Linked DNA regions of Homo sapiens. Each later gene encodes a partner of the first gene's protein in a complex. Each region holds a gene or a part of one and is shown on either strand. Other genes may lie near its edges.

Region 1 (7,326 bases):
ATTGAGGATTTTCAAAATAAAACTAGGTGGGACTATCATACTTGGTTTAGGATAACTGGCATCACATTTTAACTTTCCTCACATTTTCCAAATCACTGATACTAACTACAAAAACCCAGACATGGCTGGGCACGGTGGCTCACGCCTGTAATTCCAGCACTTTGGGAGGCCAAGGCAGGTGGATCACTTGAGGTCAGGAGTTCGAGACCAGCCTGGCCAACATGGTGAAACCCCATCTCTACTAAAAACACGAAAATTAGCCAGGCATGGTGATGGGTGCCTGTAGTCCCAGCTATTCGAGAGGCTGAGGCAGGAGAACTGCTTGAACCCAGAAGGTGGAGGTTGCAGTGAGCCAAGATCGTGCCACTGCACTCCAGCCTGGGCAACAGAGCGAGACTCCGTCTCAAAAATAAAAAACAAAAAACAAACAAACAAAAAACAAGAAAAACAAAAACCCAGGCACACAGAAATAGCTTAAAATCTAATCATACTTAAATATAAAAGGTAGATAGATCCAAAACCAAACTTCAAAATTTACTCATAATATGCACTCAAATATGCAAGACATACGTGTATCTGAATATTTAGTGGATATTCCTCAAGGCTTGCCCACTTTCAACTTAGACTAAGAACTAATCATTTAATAGAACATCACGTGCCAAATACTAGGTACTTGGGTACACAAAAATATTCCTTCAGTGATTTCACAGTAAACAAACAAGTTAAAAAATAAAAAGATTGGAACAACATTTCCTGGTAAAACTTACCATGGCATCTTCCATATCATAGCCAGTGTAAGAAATCACAGCAACGATGGCATTGGTCCCAATTGGATAGTTATCCATGTCATAATAATCATACATGGAGGGTCTCACCAAGGGACTCTGAGGAGTCTGAAGACGATACAGTTTGTTATCCGATCGGTCTTGATAAGTGAGAAGTGGAAAGCCCATAGTTTGCTTACCTACATGGAGAAAAAACATCTTAGCATTTTCTGCTGCTTTCATCTTGATTATAGGTGTGATACGCAACACTGGAAACAACTAAATATCCATCAGAGGAAAATGAACAAATAAATAGTCATGGTAGTTATGCTTACTTTAGACTAATACATAAGCTGTGAAAATGAAGTAAACCTAAATGTATCAACGTGACCAGACCAGGAAAACCATGCTGAGTGGGAGAAAGTGCAGACTGACATTTAATATGATACGATTTATGTGTATTTGCAACACACCCCAAACAATTCTATACTTAGTTTATGGATACATGTATGATGTAATAAAAGCTTTAGAAGGGGACAGAAAGGAAGTACGCAAATTACAGGCTATCACTACTCGGGGAAGAAAAGGGGATAGGAATTATTACGTAATTAGATTACTTTCTTACAGCGGAATATGTATTTAATTCTAAGTAGTGGAGCATGGGGTGAGATTCCTCTGTGTACTACCTCACAGTACAGAGAATCATTTCACGACAAAATGATTTTAAAATATAAATACATACAAGTGAAATTTTTAAAAAAATTATAGACTTAGAGCTTCCAGTAATAAAGGGCTACTCTTACTAGACCACCCTCAACACATAAGTATGAGACGCAGACCCCCAACTACACATACAGCACTGGAGAGTAACCAAAAGCTGTCAGAAGCTGAGAAGAATTTTTACTTGGACAAAAGGAACACACTGGGTGAATTTCCAGGTTTTTAAGTATTTATGTATTTATTTTTGCCTTATGGCCCAGTGTGGCAGCTACAACTTAGATAGAAACCCACAATCTTACTGGCTTGAAGAACCAAGAAATAGAGTTCTGAGCATGACAACAATTGGGAAGGGGGAACATTTCAGAAATGAGAGAACCACAAAGGGAGACCCTTAAATTCAGCATATAAATTGGGTCCGAATCTTTGGTGGACTCCTGAACTATGCATGCATGGGACAGATCACAGCAGCCCACCTAAGGCTGAAGAATGTACTTCAACTGCCACGTTCACCAAGTTAAGTACCAGTGAAAACTAAAAACCAATCCTCTTCCCCTGGAGAATTTTTGGTGACATGCACTGAACCAGGTGATGGACTGTGTATTAAGAAGGAAAGACATAAAATGAAAAAAATTAAAATGTAATTGAAGGCCAAACACCACACTAAAAACAAACAAAACCAATCCTCTTCAGAGGACCCTAACAGGATCCAGGGTTTAAAACATACTCCTCGCAATGTTCATAATACAATCCGATATTACTGGGCATACAAAGAAATGGTGAAACTTGACTTATACTCAAAGAGACTGATACTAAGATGACCCAGACATTGGAATCTGCAGATAATGATTTTACAACACCCATCATATAAAACTATGTTCAAAATATAAAGGAAAACATGCCCACAATGAATGAAGATAAGAAATCTTAGAGAAGAAAGAAACTATAAAAAAAGAAACAAGTCAGGCCAGGCGCAATGGCTCATGCCTGTAATCCCAGCACTTTGGGAGGCTGAGGCAGGCAGATCATTTGAGGTCAGGAGTTTGAGACCAGCCTGGCCAACATGATAAAACCCTGCCTCTACTAAAAATACAAAAAATTAGCTGGGCATGGTGGCACATGCCTGTAATCTCAGCTACTCAGGAGGTAGAGGCAGGAAAATTGCTTGAACTGGGGAGGCAGAGGTTGCAGTGAGCCAAGATCGTGCCACTGCACTCCAGCCTGGGTGACAGAGCGATACCCTGTCTCAAAAAAAAAAAAAAGAAAAAAAAAAGAAACAAGTAGAAGTGCTGGACTTGAAAAATACAGGCATGCACTGCATAACAATGTTTTAGTCAATGCAGGATGGCATATATACTATGGTGATCCCATATTTTTACTGTACCTTTTCTATGTTTAGCTACACAAATCCTTGCCATTGTCTTACAACTGTAGACAGTACACAGTACAGTTACATGCCACCCAGGTTTGTAGCCTAGGAGCAACAGGCTATACCATATACTAGGTGTGTAGTAGTCTCTGCCATCTAGGTTTGTGTAAGTTCACTCTATGATGTTCACACTACGACAAAATCACATATGACTCACTTCTTCGAAGGTATCCCTGTCGTTAAGGGCACATGACTGTAAGCAAAAATTCAGTAGAAGACAGAATAAAAAGTGACTGTGATAATAGGTCAATAAAAATAATCCAATCTGGGCCAGGTGCAGTGGCTCACACCTGTAACCCCAGCATTTTGGGAGGCTGAGGCAGGCAGATCACTTCAGGTCAGGAGTTTGAGACCAGCCAGGCCAACATGGTGAAACCGTATCTCTACTAAAACACAAAAATTAGCTGGGCATGGTGGTGTGTGCCTGTAATCCCAGCTCCTCAGGAGGCTGAGGCAGGAGAATTTATTGAACATGGGAGGCAGAGGTTGCAGTGAGCCGAGATTGTACCACTGCACTCCAGTCTGGGCAACAAAGTGAGACTCCATCTCGGGAAAAAAAAAAAAAGATCCAATCTGAAGAAAATAAAGAAAAAAGAGAACAGAAACTCAATGTCTTATGGAACAATATCAAAAGGTTTAAATATATGAATAACTGATAGAAGAGGAGGAAAGAGAGAAAAGGATAGGAGCAATGTTTTTAAAAATAATGACAGAAGAGTTTAGCAATTTAATTAAACTGAAAAAAAACAAAATTTGAGGCCGGGCGCAGTGGCTCACGCCTGTAATACAGCACTTTGGGAGGCCAAAGTGGGCAGGTCACCTGAGGTCAGGAGTTCGAGACCAGCCTTGCCAACATGGTGAAACCCCGTCTCTACTAAAAATACAAAAATTAGCTGGGTGTGGTGGTGAGTCCCTGTAGACCCAGCTACTTGGAAGGCTGAAGCAGGAGAATCACTTGAACCCAGGAGACAGAGGTTGCAGTAAGCCGAGATCACACCACTGCACTCCAGCCTAGGCGACAGAGCGAGACTCTGTCTCAAAAAAAAAAAAAAAGAAACACACTATATTCAGAAGACTGCTGCCTTCTAACTAGAAATGACAGAGACTAAGAAGAGACAGTGTAACAACAACTTTTAAGTGTTGGAAGAAAAATAACTGTCAACTCAGAATTGTATATCCAGTGAAAGATTCCTTCAAGTGAAGCAAAATAAAGACATTTTCAGATAAATGAAAACAAAGAGAATTTGTGGCCAGCAACCTGCACTATAAAAAAATGCTAAAGGAAGATTATCAGGCTGAAGGAAAATTGTATACAATGAAAACTTGAATCTTGCAGCAGGAATGAAGAGGACTGGAAGTGATAAATATGCGGGTGACTATAATTGCTTGTATTCTTCAAAAAATCAAATAATAAGACCTCAGGCACACCCAAATCTATGGACATTCTATACCTTTTTCTTCAAAAATGTCAATGTCAAAGACAAAGAATGTTTAAAGATCTGTCATAAATTACAGGAAACTAAATAGACATGCCAACTAAATACAATGAGTGATCCTGGGCTGGTTGCTTGTGGCACAGAAAAAAGAAAAACTTGCCATAAACTGTATTTTTGGAACAAATGGTCAGCATATGTAAATAAGGACAATAAAAGAGTGTGCTAGTATCAAGTTTACTTTCCTGATTGTGACTGTAACATCATCCCTCTTCCTTACCCATCTGGCATTGGTACATGTTCCGTGGACTCTGGTTGTGATCAGAGAAAGGGATGAAGTTGGCAATCACACTCAGCAGGCTGTGTGGAAAGAGTTCCTGGTGTGTGGTAACTCCAGCAAAAACTTCATCCTCAAAGATAGCGACATTCATGAAGATCTGGAAGAGCAGATGTCCAAGGCACAAAATAACTGCAACTGGTTACACATTTACTCTTACCATTTCTCAGAGTTCAGTACTCAAAGACTCAAGAGAAAACCATCCCCACCCAGCATCATGAGTGCTGAAGGGATCAACTGGGAAGCACAGGGAAGCGACCAGTTAGAAATACCACTTGCTTTACGTATCTCACTCTAAAACTACCCCAGACCAATTGTGAAGGGGAATAGGAAGAAAAATTTTTAAGTAGCACAAAGCCTATAATTTTGCAACTGTAAATATGTAGGCAAAGACTGAGTGTGAATCTAATGGAATGTTTTCACTTCACGGCTGAGGCAGAGCCAGGTACAAAGGAGTTCTGGGAGCTAGATAAGATGGGAGGCAGGTAATGTGACCACCAGCCCTCTCTCAGGTTCTGTGGAGTGAGATCAGACATGGAAATTGCTCTGTGCTGATCATAGAGGAGGTGGAAAGTCTGACTTTCTTTCAAATGTCCAACTGTTGTTGTAACATTAACAACCCTTTTAAAAAAGGAAGAGTTAAGTCTCTGAAAGTTGTATACTATACAAACAAGCACATACACTCATCCATCACACATATGTATTTACCTGTTCCATAGTTCCAATTAGCTCTTCTTTGCCCAATGCTAAGTTCTGCACAGGCCGTACCAGTCTACAAGGAGTGGTAAAAAGGAACAATCCTGGGTACAGACTTGGTTTTCCTGTCATGGGTATAAGGACCACTTCCATCCAGGGAGGAATTCTTTTCTCTCTCAACACCTGTTTTTAACAAAAACAGAGTTTAACAAACCTGTCCCAAGGCCATGGCTGTCGCTGCCAGTCTTATGCCCCATGGAATACCACTCATCCACACTCAGCCATGGTAAAAGCCCTACTTCCTTGGGTGCTCACCCCAGCTAGTAGGCAAATCACTAACTACTGAGGCTAAGGATAAAGCACACCATGAATGCACGTGTCGATACACTAAAGGAAATTCTGTCCTCTGTGATCTAAAATACAGTAGATTACTGGTTTTATTTGTAAATTTAATAAACCAAAAACTCATGGGTGGGCCGGGGGTGGCTTATACCTGTAATCCCAGCACTTTAGGAGGCCAAAGTGGGTGGATCACTTGAGCCCAGAGGTTCAAGACCAGCCTGGGCAACATGATGAAACCCCGTCTCTACAAAAATTAAAAAATTACCTGAGTGTGGTGGTACGTGCCTGTAGTCCCAGCTAATCGGGAGGCTGAGGTGGGAGGATCACTTGAGCCCAGGAGGTTGAGGCTGCAGTGAGCCATGATCATGCCACTGCACTCCAGCCTGGGTGACAGAGTGACCCTGTCTCAAAAACAAAACAAAAAAACTCCAACAAACTCCTGGGTGAAAGGAGAAATAAAAACCTAAATTACAGAAACCTGAAAACAACAACAACAACAACAACAACAACAAACCCATGTGTCAGAACTCATGGGGATTCACAGCTAGATGCATTATCATTAAAAATGAGAGAATGTTTGGTGGAGGGGGACACGGGGAGATGTTGGTCAAAGAGTATAAAGCTTCAGTTATGCAACAAAATTAAGTTTCTGGAGATCTCATGTACAGCATGTGACTATAGTTAAGAATACTATATTGCATGCTTGAAATTTACTAAGAGAGCAGATCTTAAGTGTCCTCATCCTCCGATGCTCCACAATGCTAACCAAAAAAAAGAGAATGAAAATAAATTCTCTATAAAAAAGATAAAATCTGAGACTAATGAGGCAGGTAGCTCATTTGAGGTCAGGAGTTCGAGACCAGCCGGGGCAACATGGAGAAACCCCATCTCTACTAAAAATATAAAAATTACCCAGGCATGGTGGTGTGCACCTGTAATCCCAGCTACTTGGGAGACCGAGGCAGGAGAATTGCTTGAACATGGGAGGCGGAGGCTGCAGTGAGCCAAGATCACACCACTGCACTGCAGCCTGGGCGACAGAGCGAGACTCTGCCTCAAAAAAAAAAAAAAAGAGGAATGATTGTTTAATGGTTACAGAGTTTCAATTTGTGATGATGAGAAAGTTCTGAAGATGGTGATGACTCCACAACATGAATGTACTTAAAACCCTCAACTGTACACTAGATCAAATCTCATACACTTTCTGAGCATCAAAATAAGTAGTAACAGAATATTCACAAAATTAAACAAGCATCTATAAATCTACGCTAACATAAATAAATGAACAACTAATAGAAAAGAAAGCCCTCCCTTACAGAATAGCAACTAATAAACATAGAAAAAATGCTGGTGGGGGAAAACACCATGTGGTAACCATCACAGTAATATTAACTCAGCAAAGAACCACCAATGGAATAGTAATTCAGCTAATAATCCATCAACTAGTGGGTGAAAATATGAAGAAAGAGGGCTCCACATAGCTTTCAACTATCTCTCCACAAGTTACTTATTACAGAGAAAAACAGAAACTGTACAGTGAATTAACCTAAAGAACACAACTTTGAAGGGATCAGTTAACATGAGTCGTAACAGGACAAACCAACGTCA
Region 2 (7,326 bases), on another chromosome or scaffold:
GCCAGTTAACCAAAAGATCTAGGCATGATTTTACAGTACTAGAGAAAAGAAAAATTCAAGTCAACTTTACACATCATAAAAAAACCAGAATAACATAAAAACACACAACTGCCTTTCATTACAAACCATGCTAAGTAAGTTCATAGGTTTCTTTAAATAATACCCATGGGTACAGAGGAAAAGCAAAGAAAGGAAGGATAAGGATGGGTGCGTAGGAAGACAACCTTCCAATTACAAGGCAGAGTAGCTCTGACCTTCTAGGAACAGGTGAGCCCCTAAGAACGTCCCAAGGGATGGAAAGCAGGTTCTCCTAACCATCTCAAAGGCACCCCTCTTAAGGTGATTGGCCAAACAGGACACGTTCACCAACACCTCTCAAGAGAAAGACAGTCTGGTGGACTTCAGTATTCCCTGATGCATCCTAGTCAAGTCCTATGGTGAATAATTTTGTGGTTGGGGAAGGGTTTCAACAGCATCCTTGTCCAAAGGTATCTTTATGGGCCACTGGAAGAAACTGGCCTCCTAGATAGGTCTATTACCTTTAAAAGGGTTTTTCTTCAGCTTTAACAGATACAATAGATTTGGAATGCAAATGAAAAAATGACAAACCTACAAAAAGAATCAAAACAGTATACAACACTGTCCTCTATCCACAAAACAAATGGATCTTTAAGTGCAACCAAAAGAGATGACAAAAGCCTTACATACAGGGTTTTATATATAAAAAAGGAGACACTTTATTCTAAAATCACCACTTAGAAATATAAACATCTTGCACAGAGTAGGGATTTTATTCACTTTAAAAACATGCCAAAAAAAATGGGAGATATTTCTGACTTGAGACAATGCTATACTCTTTTTAAAGCATGATATTAAAAAGTATTCGGAAAATTAGGCTACTTACATAAGAGGAATAAATTTAGCTCTTGCCAAAAAGCTTCCAATATAATTTCCAGCAGCCTGCCTGATGATGGCAGGATTACTTGGGTCCTGCAATTTTTTCCAGAGATGTTCCAAAAATGCCTCTGCGAATCCCTATAAAAAGAGAGGGCGTCGGTGTGATCTTTTTTAATGCCTAAGATAATCTGGCTATCAAAATCCCAAGATTTTTACTTCACCAATGTAGGGAAAAGTTCTACTATCTCATAACTATCTCATGGGCTTCATTTTTAAAACACATTGAGAGAATATCATTAAAAACAAAAGGCACCTCGGGTGTTAAATAATCCAGTGGATCCCAAACCTAGCTAAGCATCACAATCAACCCGGGGCCAGGCACAGTGGCTCACGCCTGTAATCCCAGCACTTTGGGAGGCCGAGGCGGGTGGATCACCCAAGGTCAGGAGCTCGAGACCAGCCTGGCCAACATGGAGAAACCCTGTCTCTACTAAAAATACAAAAATTAGCCAGGCATGGTGGCAGGTGCCTGTAATCCCAGCTACTTGGGAGGCTGAGGCAGGAGAATCGCTTGAACCCAGGAGGCAGAGGTTGCAGTGAGCTGAGATCATGCCACTACACTCCAGCCTGGGTGACAGAGTGAGACTCCATCTCAAAAAACAAACAAACAAAAAACAACAAAAAATTCAACCTGGGAGGTACAAATTCAATAGGTTTGTGACAGGGCTTTGGAATCCACATATTACAAAAACTCTTCAAGTGATTCCAATGTCAGCCAGAACTGGTGACCAACAATAATTCACATCCCATGGAGCTCCACATGGGCACTCCTGTGAGTGCAAAGCACCTTCCGGTCTCTGGACACACTGAACTCAACCACGAACAGAAATACGGACTAACGCACAGCTGGTATTTGAGTTAATTATGCCAATCATGGAAAAAAACAGACACAGCTTCTCACCAAAGGGTGTAACTTCCAACTTCTCCTAAATAGCGCTGTTCTAAAGCTAGGCACACCCATGTGGGCAGACTGAATTCAACCTTCTTTCCCATGACCAACACTCTCCTGATCTCTAGGAAGCCACAAAATCGTTGCAGAGAAGGAAAAGCCTTCTACATTCTTTCCCCCACCAAAAAAAAAAAAAAAAGAAGAAGAAGAAGAAAAGACAAAGCCTAAAGTTTTTAAAATTCTAGATTAATAAGTTGGTTTGGGCTAGTTACAACTCAACCCTTGGAAAGAATAAAGGAAATACAGTTAATTACCCCATATGAGATTTTAATAGAGAAAGGCTTAAGGGAAGAGCACCACCTAGTGACCAAAAGGCAGGATGACATTTTCGGAGCACCTAGCTGGGCTGGCAGGCAGCAATCTGTTTTCTCTCCAAGTGTACTGAGAAGGGAACGTGGGCCAGGCACAGTTGTTCACACCTGTAATCCCAACGCTTTGCGGGGCAGGAGGCGGGCAGATCACTTGTGGTCAGGAGTTCAAGACCAGTATGGCCAACGTGGCGAAACCCCACCTCTTCTAAAAATACAAAAATTAGCCAGGCATGGTAACCTGTGGTCCCAGCTATCGAGAGGGTAAGGACTGAGAGTCCGTTGAGCCCAAGAGGTGGAGGTTGCAGCAGTGGGCAGCAGAGCGAGACTGTGTCTCAAAAAAGAAAGGAAAAGAAAACAAAAAAAGAAAGGAGAATGCGATTTTATTAAGCAGACTAGCAAGTAAGCTCAAAGAAAAGAATTATTTACTTCATGGTCTCCGTCCACCCCAGTTTTTAGGGAAAATTTTTGGGCAAAAACAAAGTAAGCTAAGATAATGTTAATCACATTCTTACTCACCAATTTGAAACTACAGAGGTAAAACATGAAAAACTGTACATGGCAGGAGGCATGGGTGGGCAACAGGAGTTTGTCAAAGATGTTTATCAGGTCGCGATATAGATCCTTTGTTTTGCCGTTATCAACCTTACCTATGGAGAAAATCTGGCATCTCAGTTTTTATAAAGACATATTTTCAAGTTTCATCTGCCATATTTTTTATAAACACAACACCATTAAAAAACAACATTATCCAGCCAAGCACAGTGGCTCCTGCCTGCAATCCCAGCACTTTGGGAGGCCAAAGTGAGAGGGAGCCCGGGAGTTCAAGGGCAGCCTGGGGAACACAGGGAAGCTCTGTCTCTACAAAAAATCAAAAAATTAGCCAGGCATGGTGGCACGCCTGTGATCCCAGCTACATGGGAGGCTGAGGCGGATGAACCGCTTGAGCCCAGGAGGTCAAGGCTGCAGTAAGCCATGTTTGTGCGACTGCATTCCAGCCTGGGTTAGAGTAAGACCGTGGCTATTTAAAAAAAAAAGAAAGACAGACATTATCCATTAAAATACCATTAAAACAAAATGCTACTTTTAGTTTACACAGATTTTCCTCTGAATATAATAATCTAACACCTGCAAGGAAGCAGGCCCTCACCTCACACACTGTGGCAAGGTCAGAAATGCAAACCCTTCTGAAGAGCAATTCTATCATTCGTGTAGCAAAAGACCTCTAATCCGATCATTTTACTGTTAGTAAACAGCTGAATATATAGGCACAAGTATGTTCATTATAACTGTTACTTATCATGGTGAAAACAGTAAAAGACAGTTAAACCCATGTGACCAACAACATTTATTATTACGACTTTTTTTTTTAGAGATGGGGTCTTGTTATGTTGCCCAGGATAGTTAGTCTTGAACTCCTGGCCTCAGTGATCCTCCCACCTTGGCCTAAGTGCTGGGATTCAATAACAATTATTTTAAAACAGGCAATGATATGAGAAAATGTTTATCTTCAGCATCCATGTAAAGGGCAGATTATGAAACACTTGTGTTTAGTGTGACACCCAAATTCACTAAAAAATACTCTCCTACATATACAGACGCTAACAGAAAAGGGAAAAAAGTCAAACTTCAAAATGCTCACAATGGTTCTCTGAAGAGTAGAAATGTGGCCATTTAAATTGTTTTTATCCTTTCCTGTAGTTTCCAAATTCTCTAATCAACATGTATTATTTTTATAACAGCAAGACCGTTAAAACAGTAATGCAGTCAACTCAGATTCCAGTTCTATTATTCTGACTCACTGAGCTCATCTTAAATCTTAGCAATGTGAATGGAAAAAAATTCTGTTTTCGCCTGGCAAAGCCTTTAAAGTTCCATGAAGTCAAGAAGCACATATAGTACTAACACTGGCACAACAATGGTGCCAGGCAAAGACCCTCTAAACTCAATACATAACGGAGCACCATATATTAGTGCACCCTACATCATTCTTCAGTGCATTCAGCAACTTGAGCGTAATTTGATCTAAAACTGGCCAAACTCCATATATAATCTTTCAATACAACAATCAGTGAAAAGACAGAAGACAAATATAACTCAGCCAGAATCCCAGTCCCATTTTCAAGCTATGTGACTGGCAAGTAACTTGACCTCTTTAAATCATCTTAAACTCATACTCAATAGATATTTTTACAGGATTTTTAGTATTACTAGAGATAATGGATGGAAAATGCCCAGCACAAAGCCAGGTACACTGCAGGTGTTCAATAAACAGTAGCTACTGTGATTTACCATCTACATAGCAGACATCCTTCATGTAGGACAAAACCAAAGACATCAGGATGTCCAGGCGCTCGGCTACAGGATGCACCATCTGGTCGAGCCGTTCAGGACCAGCCTTTGTTTCATGTTCAGTTTCTTCATCTTCATCCTTTGAAGACAAAAAGTAAATACTAACATTAAAAAATTCAATGTCAAAGTGGTTTAGTAGGAAAACTGTCATAAGTGATTATTTCCCTTAAAAGATAAAACAAAGAGGCTGGGGAAAGCGGCTCACATCTATAAGCCCAGCACTTTGGGAAGCAGAGGTGGGGGGATCACTTGAGGTCAGGAGTTTGAGACCAGCCTGGCCAACATGGTAAAACTCTGTCTCTACTAAAAATACAAGAATTAGCCAGGTATGGTGGTGCACGCCTGTAATTCCAGTTACTCAGGAGGCAGAGGCAGGAAAATAGCTTGAACTGGGAGGTGGAGGAGGCTACAGTGAGCCGAGTTCGTGTGCTCCAGCCTGGGCAACAGAGGAAGACTCTGTGCCCCACCAAAAAAAAAAAAAAAAAACTAAACTAAAACAAAGAAATGGACCACGCACAGTGGCTCACGCCTATAATTACCAACACTTTGGGAGGCCAAGGCAGGAGGATCACTTGAGCTCAGGAACTTGAGACCAGCCTGGGCAACACAGTGAGACCTGTCTCTACAAAAATAGAAAAAAAGTAGCTGGGTGCGGTGGTACACTGTAGTCCCAGCTACTCGGGGAGGCTGAGGTGGGCAGATCACTTGGGCCCAGGAGGTCGAGGCTGGAGTGGGCCAAGATCACACACTGCCACACTCCAGCCTGGGCAACAGAGTGAGACCCTGTCTCAAATTAAAAAAGAAAGAAAAGAAAGAAAGAAATGCAGACACCTTTCCAGGCAGGGGTCTCATTCAGGGATGTGAATCAGAACCACCAGTGAAATTTAAAATAAAAGCCAAGACTCACAGCACCAGCTTCTGATTCTCATTGAGAAGACCCAATGAGACCTATCCATGCAAAAATCACAGATGCCCCCTACCTCTGCTCCTGGTGCCCACCATGGCGGGTGCTTTTGGTGCCGGGCCCCCTTTTGCAGGTCGGGATATCCACCTCCCCACTGCTGTGAGTACTGGCGGCCAATAGCTCACAGCCGCCTACTTTCTCCAGAGCTGCCCTGAGCAGAAAGGAGCCAGGACCACCCTTGCACTCTTTCCAGCCCCTCCCCCTTAGAACCAATGACTGATTGACAAGGCATCAGAAAAGGACATCTCCTTGGTCTCAAGCTGGGAACAAACTCTGTAGACCAATCCATGCCCCAGAATGCCTGGTGGGAGCAGGCTGTAGCGACCTCCCAAGTGAGACCCGGCCCCCGTTTAGCTCCCCTGCCCTCTTCTGCTCCCTGACACCCTCTGTCCCAAGGGCACCTGAATCCCTGTCTCAGACTCTCCTTCCACTGAACCCAACTTCAGATACCACCCAAAAGAAGTAATGCTATAAAGTGTACAAGTGGTAAAATGCAGAAATTAAACAGGTATGCTTTTCTATTAACCACGCCCTCACAGACAGCATCTGGCTTACAAAAACAAACACTGAAAGTTACAAGAACAAAAGTGAAACATACTTCACCAAACCCAAATTCAAAGCCTTGGAAATAGACCAACTATGCTAAGTGCTAAATGACATGGCAGCAAATTACTCATATAAGGAATCGTTTTCAAGTTTGCTGAACTATTTTAATTCTTTCAATCTAAAGCCTTAACAAAGATGAGCAGCACTAGCTGTTTCCACCCTTTATGATAAACTTCATCTCCACTTTCATTAATAAACTGCTAACCATATTAAACAATCCTTCCGTGGAATCTGTCCCACCACAAGTTTGAGTTGCTGTTTCTTCAGCATCTTCAATACCCTGCCGGGATGCATTCACCTATAACAAAGGGAGAAAAAAAAAGAATAAAAGGATTTAAAAAATACAACTATGTTATTTTGGGATGGAAATTCATCTGATATACGCATGTTCAAGGTGTCCAGATTAGTGCCTTATATCACACCCCAACACAATACACAATTATGGTGCAAGCCTGTAAACTGACCTAGGTCATGAAGGAATTTAAATATAATAAACCAAGCCCCTTTTACTACATACTTATATAAAATCGACAACTATCACATGATGCTCTATGCCAGGCAGCCTCAACAAATTCAACATTTATTCTAGCTCTGATATGGTCTGGCTCTGTGTCCCCACCCAAATCACTTTTTTTTTTTTTTTTGAGGCAGAGTTTTGCTCTTGTTGCCCAGGCTGGAATACAATGGCAAGATCTCGGCTCACCGCAAACTCCGCCCCCCAGGTTCAAGAGATTCTCCTGCCTCAGCCTCCCGAGTAGCTGGGATTACAGTCATGTGCCACTGTGCCCAGCTAATTTTGTATTTTTAGTAGAGATGGGGTTACTCCATGTTAGTCAGGCTGGTCTCGAACTCCTGACCTCAGGTGATCCACCGGCCTCAGCTTCCCAAAGTGCTGGAATTACAGGCATGAGCCACCGCGCCTGGCCCCAAATCTCATCTTGAATCGTACTCCTCCTGTAAGTCACACATGTTGCTGGGGGGGGACTGGTGGGAGATAATTTGAATCATAGGGTAGGTTTCCCCCATACTGTTCTCGTGATAGTGAATAAGTCTCAAGAGATCTGATGGTTTTATCAGGGGTTTCCACTTTTACATCTTCCTCATTTTCTCTTGCCGCCACCATGTAAGAAGTGCCTTTCACCTCCCGCCATGATTCTGAGGCCTCCCCAGCCATGTGGAACTGTAAGTCC

The links. The genes of interacting proteins can lie anywhere in the genome.
Region 2: POLR1B (region 1) and RRN3 share a complex: the UniProt entries of both Homo sapiens proteins name them as parts of the pol I pre-initiation complex.

What each region holds. Positions count from the first base shown.
Region 1 is NC_000002.12:112,566,200-112,573,525, reverse strand, and holds part of POLR1B (DNA-directed RNA polymerase I subunit RPA2), read right to left. Parts: intron 6,769-7,326; coding exon of another isoform or gene 6,631-6,768; intron 5,560-6,630; coding exon 5,389-5,559; intron 4,781-5,388; coding exon 4,624-4,780; intron 965-4,623; coding exon 768-964; intron 1-767. UniProt on the Homo sapiens protein: Catalytic core component of RNA polymerase I (Pol I), a DNA-dependent RNA polymerase which synthesizes ribosomal RNA precursors using the four ribonucleoside triphosphates as substrates.
Region 2 is NC_000016.10:15,070,217-15,077,542, forward strand, and holds part of RRN3 (RNA polymerase I-specific transcription initiation factor RRN3), read right to left. Parts: intron 6,435-7,326; coding exon 6,342-6,434; intron 4,646-6,341; coding exon 4,507-4,645; intron 2,865-4,506; coding exon 2,734-2,864; intron 1,036-2,733; coding exon 905-1,035; intron 39-904; coding exon 1-38. UniProt on the Homo sapiens protein: Required for efficient transcription initiation by RNA polymerase I (Pol I). Required for the formation of the competent pre-initiation complex (PIC).